Homo sapiens: one gene and its partners. The protein of the gene in region 2 interacts with the protein of the main gene of each other region in a biochemical or structural test. Each region holds a gene or a part of one and is shown on either strand. Other genes may lie near its edges.

The links.
Region 1: the proteins of KCNQ1 (region 2) and KCNE1 form a complex in vitro, tested with the Homo sapiens proteins (2 studies listed by BioGRID and IntAct).
Region 3: the proteins of KCNQ1 (region 2) and AKAP9 form a complex in vitro, tested with the Homo sapiens proteins (one study listed by BioGRID).

What each region holds. Positions count from the first base shown.
Region 1 is NC_000021.9:34,510,020-34,513,773, reverse strand, and holds the start of KCNE1 (potassium voltage-gated channel subfamily E member 1), read left to right. Parts: upstream 1-1,563; 5' UTR 1,564-1,747; intron 1,748-2,449; exon of another isoform or gene 2,450-2,458; 5' UTR 2,459-2,673; intron 2,674-3,754. UniProt on the Homo sapiens protein: Ancillary protein that functions as a regulatory subunit of the voltage-gated potassium (Kv) channel complex composed of pore-forming and potassium-conducting alpha subunits and of regulatory beta subunits.
Region 2 is NC_000011.10:2,847,006-2,849,757, reverse strand, and holds the end of KCNQ1 (potassium voltage-gated channel subfamily KQT member 1), read right to left. Parts: intron 1,992-2,752; coding exon 1,755-1,991; 3' UTR 653-1,754; downstream 1-652. UniProt on the Homo sapiens protein: Pore-forming subunit of the voltage-gated potassium (Kv) channel involved in the regulation of cardiomyocyte excitability and important in normal development and functions of myocardium, inner ear, stomach and colon.
Region 3 is NC_000007.14:92,076,763-92,080,516, reverse strand, and holds part of AKAP9 (A-kinase anchor protein 9), read right to left. Parts: intron 3,663-3,754; coding exon 3,510-3,662; intron 2,822-3,509; coding exon 2,642-2,821; intron 1,439-2,641; coding exon 365-1,438; intron 1-364. UniProt on the Homo sapiens protein: Scaffolding protein that assembles several protein kinases and phosphatases on the centrosome and Golgi apparatus. Required to maintain the integrity of the Golgi apparatus. Required for microtubule nucleation at the cis-side of the Golgi apparatus.

The DNA of each region.
Region 1 (3,754 bases), on a different chromosome or scaffold from region 2:
TCTTCCCTGTTGAAACATAATTTGGGTGGAAGTGGGATTCCTGGTAGCCAATGGCTCATAGTAGACGTTCAACACGCAAGTGGATTGGATAGATGGAAGGATAGATGGGTAGATGGAAAGTTGGATGGATGGATGGATGGATGGATGGATGGATGGATGGATGGATGGATAGGGATTTTGGAGGAAGAGGAGTGAGCAGTCACTGAAAAGAATAGAAAAATAATGAGGCTTGCTCCCTCTCCCTAGTCAGAAGAGCCAGTAAGCAGCTTAGAGCTTTAATCCCACAAATTGTCAGGCAGCTGGCGCAAGAACAGGGAAAAAGAGAGAGAGAGAGAGAGAGAGACCCTGTCTGTGGTAGGTTATGGTCATCAGTGAAAAAGAACAAAAACCTTTGTTTTAAAACTCTCCTCAAAACAGATGATTGGCTAGAGGGTGCGGCACAAAGGAACTTGTCAGGGTGATGGAGACATTCTGTATCTGGATTGAGCAATGCAAGAACCTGGGTAAAGACACAGTCATGGTAACAGCTGTATACATCTGTTGAAAACTCATCAAACTTATCATATTTAGAAAGGGTACATTTTGCTTCATGTAAAGTATGCCTCAATAAAGTGTACTTGATTTTAAAATCAGGATAAAGGAAAAAAACATTGATCTTGGATAATGGGCAGGGGTTGGGGAGAAGGTCTTAATTATCATCATATCCTTTTAAAAACGTTTTTCAAGTGTGTGATGCTCTGATGACATTCTTAAGACACAGCAAGGCAAAGCAGTATCCCAAATGAGAGAGTGAGCATTCCAATAAATATTTTCTGTAAGACACTGATATGTCTATGACTATTTGCTAAATTTAAAAATCAACTTGGACCATATTTACTCCCTTAAAGTCTAATAGACGACTAATTTCTTCTATGTTCAGAACAAATATGTTGCTACTTTAAGAACAGCATACATAGGTGTGGTCGGCCCTCTGTGTCTAAGGCTTCTGCATCTGTGGATTCAACCAACAATGGACTGAAAATATTCCAAAAATAAAATAAAATTAATGAAACAACAACAAAAATAAAACAAATAAAAAAATGCCAGGTAACAACTACTTACAAAGCATTTACATAGTATTAGGTGTTAGAAGTAATCAAGAGATGATTTAAATCACCATCTATGATTGGCTGATATGCATAGGTTATATGCAAATACTATGCCACTATATATAAAGGACTTGAACATTCGCAAATTTTGGTATCTGCAGGGGATTCTGGAACCAAACCCCATGGATACCAAGAGACAACTATATATAAAATACTGAAAGAGGCATGGAGAGTGATTTTCAGGCCTCTACCTAAAGCCCTGAATATTAGAAATTACTGAATTTCTTCTCAGGAAGGAAATTACGCCATAAACCAGTGTTGCCACACACCCAGAGAACAAGATGACCCGACGCCCCAGCCTGGTCATGCCACATGAGCTGAGCAGTGGGTAGGCCACTGAGCCAGTGATAGAAATCACAAATTACAAAACGTCAGAGTACTTTCTGGAAATAAGCCTTCCTCTCCAGGGAACAACGCATTTGACACTTGACTGGGATACACTACCGGATCCTCCGAGGGTGATGGTTCTCAAGAAGGCAGAAGCAATGGTGACCAATAGACCTCCTTAAAGGCTGAGCCGCTGGGCACCTTCCTACTCCTCTCGACCGTGCTAGGATGACTGCAGCAGAGTCCCCGAGTCCTTTGATGCAAGGGTCTAGGTGAGTTCGAAGGAGAGCCATACTAGGCCAGGCAGAAAGGCCCATGGTGATGGCTGTCCACCCTGGTCAGGGGAATTCTAGGTTCAGGCCATGCGGCAAGGTCACCTTGAGGGACATGCTTTGCTCTAAGCTCAGCTTAAGTGTGTCTGAACCCCCCTCACTTCTTCCAACTGCAGAAGCACATGGAGAAGGGGGAGAAAGGGTTGCCCACCTCCTAAAATGAGGGCAGCGTGGTGAAGAGCCCCATCATGCCCCACCAAGGTCCTGTGTGCAGGGCAGGGCAGTGCCTATCCAGAAGGCCAGACCTCTAACTGCTGCTCTGTAGGACGTCCGGGCCTCACATGCAGGCTCCTATAAGCTGGCTGTCTTGGCAAGAGGGCCCTGGTACAGCACTGTGTTCATCACAGAAAACCACACCGTACATAATTTGTAACAGACAGAAATGCATTTGGCTCATGGTTCTGGAGACTGGGAACCCAGGATGGAGGGGCCACATCTGGCAAGGGCCTTCTTGCCATGACATGGTGGAAGGTATCACAAGGTTGGGGAAGGAGGGGTGGGCGGGGCGGGAAGAGAGAGAGAGAGAACAAGAGAGAGAGAATCCATTCATAAGGGTGGAGCCCTCATGACTAAACACCTCCCATTAGGTCCCACCTCCCAACACTGTTGCTTTGGGGATTAAGTTTCCAGCTGGCTTTTTTCAAACCTTAGCAACCACCAAACAGACAAGCCCTTCGGCCTGTCCTGGAGGGCGTTGAATGGCATGGCCTGGAGCTCAACCAGGAGAACCGTGCTCAGGAGGAAGAGACCAGAAGGATAACTCAAAAAGTTCTGAGAAGTTCCTAAGACCACCTGAAGAGAAGGAGCCTGCTGCCAATGGTGTGGACACCGCAGTGTGCTTGAGGAGACTTCAGAAACGAGAACTGGTAGGAGAAGGGGGTTGCACAGACCCTTTCCTCAGTTAGGCACCCTCTGCTCCCACCCTCATGCCCACCCTGACATCAGGCTAAGGGAGAGGCGCTCATCCATTGACAGGTGCCAGGCTGTCCTGGGCCTGGCAAACCCTGGCCTTGTACACCCACTCTCCACACGTCTGCCCCCACCCTCCCAGGGGCAGGGCCGGGCTTCCCTGCAGAGACACAGGGCAAAGAGGGAGAGAGAAGGCCTCAGGCCAGGGCATGGCCTAGTGCCTCCCAGCGCCAGGTCCTGACAGCCTGAGAGAGCTGGAATCAAGGAAGGTGATCCTGGGCCCCAGACAGACGTCAGTGAGCTTCAGCCTCTGGTGGCTGCACACCAGCCAGGGCAGCAGCGCCCCCTCCTGCCTGTGTTCAGCTGTGTGGGCTGCAAGAGGACTAAGGAGAGTTTCAAGGAGGCAGGCAGTGGGGGAGGAAGTGTCCCAGGTAGAGGCTGAAGCTTTAAGGAGGATGGGAGGGGAGGCTTCACCCGGAAGGAGCTTTTGGAGCAAGGGCCTGAAGGAAATTGGGGAGAGAGCCTGAGTATCTTTGGTAACTGGGAAGAGAGCATTCCAAGCAAAGGGAAAAGAAGAGAGGCTGTCAGACAAGTGTGCACCCACCATGTCTGGGCACATCGAGAAGGACCCTGTGGCTGGAGGGGAGGAAGGAGGGGAGAATGGAAAGTGAGACCAGAGGTGACCTGACCAGGGCCTTCGGAGCCCCGGTGAGGGGCTCAGCGGGTGGGTGTCATGGGTGTGAAGAGGTAGGTCCCTCATCACCAGTCAGCAAAGCGTTCCCTGGGCTCAGCTGAAGTCCTGCTGGAGTGTGTGCCCCCTGGACTGGAGGGGATGGGATTGGTGGGAATAAAGTTGTGAGTTTGGAGTTGTGGTGAGCAGAGCACGAAGTGAGCCCCCAGCACTGCCACTTCCGCGTGAGGGGTGAACTGGCCCTGCACTCTCTCCCCTTGAGTGTGGGCAGGACAACCCTCTCTGCCTACAACGGCTCAGCACTCGTACTACTGTGGGACAGTGCTTCTGTGATTACGTTCCTTTAT
Region 2 (2,752 bases):
CGGGATGGGCTCTGGAAAGAGGACAGAAGGCGGCTGCAGTCCTGAAGGACTGAGAAACGGTCCAATAGCTGAGGTGGGGGCACAGCAGATGCACCTGCCCCGGTTGAGTGTGTCTGTGCCGAGAGTGAGGCACTCTTTCCACCTTAGGAGAGGCGGGCCTCACAGAAAGCTGCAGGAACAGGGTCAGGGCGAGCAGGGTGGTGGCCCCTCTGTCCCACTCAGAGAACTGGACAGGCTAAGGGAGCATCGTGTTACCAATGGGGAAATAGAGGCCCGGAGGAGGCCAGGGGTGAGCATATGGGAGCCTCAGGGGCCCCAGGCCTTCCTTGCACCACAACCCCTCCAGAGTTTAGCCCTTGGCATCCTGGGGAATGGGCCTGGGTGGGGCCTGCTCCCAGAGTGGAGCATGTGGGTCCTTGATGAAGGGCCACCCTGGCCTGGGAGGGGCAGACAGAGAGGCCCAGACAGAGCCCATCTGCCGCAAGGGCATAGAGTCTGCTGGAAGACAGGCAGTGACCACACTGTGACTGCACTTCATGGCCAGGGCCAGCCCAGGGCCCAGAACAGGAGCGACGTCGCTAAGCTAGAGCCTTCGATGGCATCTTGCAGCCCCTCTGAACCCTGACCTACTCCTCAGTACACGGACATAGCGTTCCTATTCCACAGCCACCTGGGCACTGCTTCCAGGGGAACTGCAGGGGTCCTGTCTGTGAGAGACCCCATGGATGCCCCAGGAACCAAGGTGAGAGCAGTGCCCAGCCCAGCCTGTGATTCTCCACGTTTATTAGGAAAAGCTTGCACAATTAATAATCAAAATCACACTGTGAAACTCATTAAAACACAGATCCAAATCACCACAAATTATTGATTTCTATGCGATGTAATGCCCAGAAGGAACCCCTGTCCTGTGTAGGAACCGTCACTTCTCTGCGGCTCAGCAGCTGGCAAGGGGAGGTGGCAGTCCCCTTCTGTGTGTTTGGCTGGCTGCTGGGACTGGGCGAGGGGTTGGAGGCGGGAGCCCCACGCACAGTGGGCTCAGGGGCGGAGAGGCAGGGCTCCTCTCCAGCTAGGAAGAGCTGGCAGTCTAACCCAGGGAAGTGGGCGTTCCCCCCACTCAACCACGTGCCCTGGGGAAATGGTGAGACTGTCCCTCCTGCTGGAAGCTGGGGGCTCAGGAGCAGTCTCCACAGTCTCCTGCCCATGGGTCAGCATTTCCTGAGAGTGAGGGAGCCAGGCCCAGGCCCTCCAAATGGGCTCCTGGGCTTTTATTGCCGGCGGCCCTGTAGTCAGCGTGGGCTGGTCCTGCCCTGCCTGTGCCTGGCAGGGTCCTGGATTTGAGGCTGGGGTCCAGGGGTTGCTCTGTCTCCCCTCAGGAAGCCCCCTGGGCCAAGCAGGGTGGGCCTGCACTCAGCCTGTGCTACTTCCTGGCCATACATGGGCCAGGCCCTGTGCCCTGCCACTGGGTCCCAACCACCATGCCAGTGATGTCAACATCACCATGTGGGGGCCAGGGCGCTTGGGGTAACAACTCAGACCTGAGACGGGGCCCCCACACCGGCCAGGAAGAGGTGGCCTTGCTGAGCCCCCAAGTGCAGGCTGTGCCAGACAGCATGGTCCATGGGGTATTGGGGCCTCTGAGAGTGGGGCTCTTCTCTCTGGGCCTTTTAGGAGGTGGCCTCCTTCAGAGAGGGCCAGGTGGGGCCACTCTTGGCCTCCCCTCTCACTCAGGCCCATCCCCCAGCCCCATCCCCTCCTCAGGACCCCTCATCGGGGCCCCTCCTGGGCACGGTCAGCTGCTCGTAGGTGGGCAGGGTGTTGCTGGGCAGGAAGAGCTCAGGGTCGACGGAGCCGCCACTGCCGCAGGGCTGGGTGATGTGGGCCCCGCCCTCTCTGGGGGGGCCGCCGCTGCCGGGGGTGCTGCCACCGTGCAAGGAGAGCAGCTGGTGAAGCATGTCGGTGATGAGTGCCAGCCTCTGGTCCAGCTGCGTCACCTGCGGGGACAAAGGCAGACGAGAGAGTCAGTGGTGGGAAGCACCCAGGTGTGCAGACAGCCTCAGGGCCCAGGTTTGGGGCCAGAGAAGGGAAGGTGCCAACCGTCTCTGCAAGTGCATGCTGTATGCAGGCGGCACGCACGTGTGCACCCTATGTCTGCAAGGCCCTCGGTCGCGCCTGTGTGTGTGCAAGGAATGTGCATGTGTGCCGATTGGAGTCCATCCCGTGCGTGCTGGGAGTCCCTATATGTGTCCACAGGCATTCAGGCTCAGGGCCAGGAGCTCTCCTCTCCTCCTTCTCTGCTCCCCAGGCTGGCCGGCCTTCTGTGCCACATCCCCGCATGGCAGGGTCTGCACCAGGGACCCGGACCTGAAATATTTGGGTTTGCGGCAGCCTTTGGCTTCTTGAGGCCAGGCTTGGGGACATTTGGGTTAAGGGTCAAGAAAGGCTGGGGGCTATGTCTACTGTGTCTGGAGGAGAACTGGACAGAGGGCAGAGTTCAGCAAGGCTGGCTCATGGGCAGGGCCTGGGGTGGTTGAGGAGGCAGAGGGCTTGGGCTTTGCCTGGGTGTGCAGGGGATGCCCCTGCTGGGCCACTTCCAGGAGGGGCTTGCAGGGCACAGGGCTTGTGCCTCTGTGATGCTTTCTGCAAGGGGGTGGGGGTGGGTTTTTTTGTCATCCCCCAGGAACCATTATGCCATGTCTTTAACCTAGCGGGGACACCACTATTTTCCCAGACACCATCTGCACCCACATTCTGT
Region 3 (3,754 bases), on a different chromosome or scaffold from region 2:
ACAGCATTCTCCTGCCTCAGCCTCCCGAGTAGCTGGGACTACAGGCACCCACCACCACGCCCGGATAATTTTTTGTATTTTTAGTAGAGACGGGGTTTCACCGTGTTAGACAGGATGGTCTCGATCTCCTGACCTCAAGATCCACCCGCCTCGGCCTCCCAAAGTGCTGGGATTACAGGCGTGGGCCACCGCGCCTGTCCTAGTTTTTCTTTTAACAAGAGTTTATTTTTTATAAGTGGTATATTTTTATAAAAACCTTCTTGTATAAATTGTTAGATGTAAACAGAACACCATATTTAGTAAATTAGCAATCAGCTTAGTTTCTTGGGGTATTTAAATGAAACTAATAAAATACAAAACTAACCTTGAGAACTTCAACATCTTGAGGGCTTCTTTTCTTTTCTTTCTCTCTCTGTTTTTTCTCATTGCCCTCCAATAGCTTCTGTAGTTCTAGCAGCTTCTTTTCTTTTTCTAAAACATTTTTTTCTGCAATTTCTACTTGTTCTTTTTCTAAAATCAAACTAGTATGCATTTCAACAACCTGGCTTTCTAATTCTGATATTCTCAAGGTTAATGCTGATATATCTGACCCCAACTCATCTTCTCTTAGTTGATTTAAATTCTGAATATTTGTTCTTTCAGGTTCTGATGAAATTGTTTGATTATCTTGACAGAATTTTGCATATTCCTGAACTGCCTCAAGTTGGATTTGACTGACAAGAGCAGCAGCCACTTTTTCTTCAACTATTTTCTGTAGGTTTACAATCTTCTTTTGAAGCATTTCTGTTTCAAACTGGCCTTGTTCTTGCATGTCTTTTATTTGTTTATAACACTGGGTAAGTTCTAAGTCCTTTGCACTAACAGTGCTCTCAAGTTGTAGCAACCTTGTTTCCAAATTAATTATGGAACCTTTGCCATTTTCTTCAAAAGATTTGAAGTATGTCTGATTTTCTAGGGATTTAAGAGCATCCTCTGTAAGGACTACTTCTAGTTCAGGTTTGTCTTTGCTCAGATGATCTATAGCCACGTTAACACTATTCTCTGGTATGCTTTGAATCTTTTCCACACTTTCACGTTCTCTCTTTAAGCTGAATAATTCCTGTGTTAGCTGATTCATTTTAAAATTGGTTTCTTTAAGTACATTTTTCATGAAGGTCATTTCTTCATTAGCGGTTTCTACTTGCTGTTCCAAGGCCAGCTTTTCAGCTATAACCACATCCAATTGATGTTTTAAACTGTCTGCTTCTTCTGAGAGGGAATGAGCATTCATTGATGTCTTCTGTCCAATATTTGCCAATTCCTGTTGAAGTTTTTCAATCACTTCATTGAGCTGCTCTATTTCTTCTTCTCTATTTCTCTTCACACATTCTTGATCACTCATCAAACATTCTATTTGGGTTTCAAGATCCCTTATCAGTTCATTTTTTTCTTCAATAACCTAATAATTAATGAAAAAGGTAACATACATAATATATATGTATTTACATTTTGAAAATTTTACTTTATTTTAGGGCAGTACCTCAAAGAGATGATCACACACAAAAATAATACACTACTTCTCAGACATACTACTTAATTTCATTATAGACCAATATCTCCCCCATCATATCAAACAAGGCTCAGAAAGTTCTGTTAAGTATAAAGTAATATAAGCTTTTAGTTGCTGATTCCCTATTAGGAAAATAGTCAATATCAATACTTCTTAATGGAAAAGGATGAAGTACGGAAATAAAGTCTACAACCGATGGCACCAAAGGTAATTACCTTACTTAACTCATATTAAATATTATAATTTATAATAGATTTGGTTAGAATAACATGATAAAATCTAAGTCACAGAGCCTTTCTGAAAAACATTAGAATCCTATGACAATATTAGGAGGGGAGAAAAATACATATAAATTATTAAACCAATGTGTCTTTGCTTTTTTTTTTTTTTCTTTTTGAGACAGGGTCTCACTCTGTCACCCAAGCTGGAGTGCAGTGGCATGATGAGGCTCACTGCAGCTGGGACTACAGGTGGTATGCCACCATGTCCAGTTAATTTTTATATTTTTTGTAGAGACAAAGTTTCACCATGTTGCCCAGGCTGGTCTTGAACTCCTGGGCCCAAGCAATCCGCCCACCTAGGCTTCCTAAAGTATAAGGATTACAGGTGTGAGCCTCTGTGCCTGGCCACCAATGTGTCTTAATAAATTAAAATTAATAAAAGAGAATTGGGCCAGGCGTGGTGGCTCATGCCAGTAATACCAGCACTTTGGGAGGCTGAGGTGGGTGGATCACCTGACATCAGGAGATAGAGACCAGCCTGGTCAACATGGTGAAACCCCATCTCTATTAAAAATACAAAAAATTAGCCAGGTGTGATGGTGGGTGCCTGTAATCCCAGCTACTCGGGAGGCTGAGGCAGGAGAATCACTTGAACCTAGGAGGTGGAGGTTGCAGTGAGCCGAGGTTGCACCATTGGACTCCAGCCTGGGCGACAGAGCGAGATTCTGTCTCAAAAAAAATAAATAAAATAAAATAAAATAAAATAAAATTGGTTTGTTTTTTAAATTCAATGGGGAGCAACATTATAACCATTTTGCCCTTTAAAACTCTGGTTCATATTAATTTCATAATCAATTTTAAATGAGTATACCTTGTTATCTGTTGTAATTTTAAGTTGCTGCTGGAGTTTCGTAACTTGTTCATTTAATTGGTCAATTTCTACCTCTTTTTCCTGTATTATTTGAGCAAATTTCCCAAATAGCACATGTTGGTCTTGAGTAGACATGGCATCAGATTCCTTTATGGCAAGTCCCAGTTTCTCCATGTCATCCTAGGAACAAAAATAATTATCACAGTTGGATATATCATTACCTATCATTTTCAGAACATAATTACAAAAGAAATCAGAGCCTATAACGTACAAATGAATAAAATCAGAGACACCATATGGTTACTGTAAATCAATAATTCTAAAATATTTTGATAAATGATCCCAAAATTTTCATTTATGATGAATTCAAATGTTCAGGTTGGGCTGAAAATAAGCTGTATGCAAATGTGTCTGCCTGTTAATGTTCCTCTGTTGAGTATTATTTAACAGCTGGATTTATCGAATGCTTAATAAAGCAATATAGGGGCCAGGTGTGGTGGCTCACGCCTGTAATCCCAGCACTTTGGGAGGCCAAGACAGGCGGATCACGAGGTCAGGAGATCGAGAGCATCCTGGCTAACACGGTGAAACCCCATCTCTACTAAAAATACAAAAATTAGCCAGGCGTGGTGGTACGTGCCTATAGTCCCAGCTACTCGGGAGGCTGAGGCAGAATTGCTTGAACCAGGGAGGCGGAGCTTGCAATGAGCCGAGATCACACCATTGCACTCCAGCCTGGGCAACAGAGTGAGACTAAGTCTCAAAAAAAAAAAAAAAAAGAAAGAAATAATAATAATAATAATAATAAAGCAATATAGGACTGAAACTATGACTTATTTACAGATAAAAGTTTTTCTTAACTAATTACCTTAAATAATTTGTTTTCCTGTTCAAGTTCTTGTAGGCGGGTAGTAGATTCCTTTTTCTGTATTTCTAATTGCATATGTAATTGTTGAACTTCTTCATTCTTATTTTCCAGTTCTTCTCTAAACTGTTCTAATTGCTCTTCTAAGTTTGTAATCTTTAATAACAAAATTATCAAAAGAGAAAAAATGTTTATACAAACGTTTATCAAGATAAAATGAAGAGTGCTATATTAGCTTTACAAAGTAT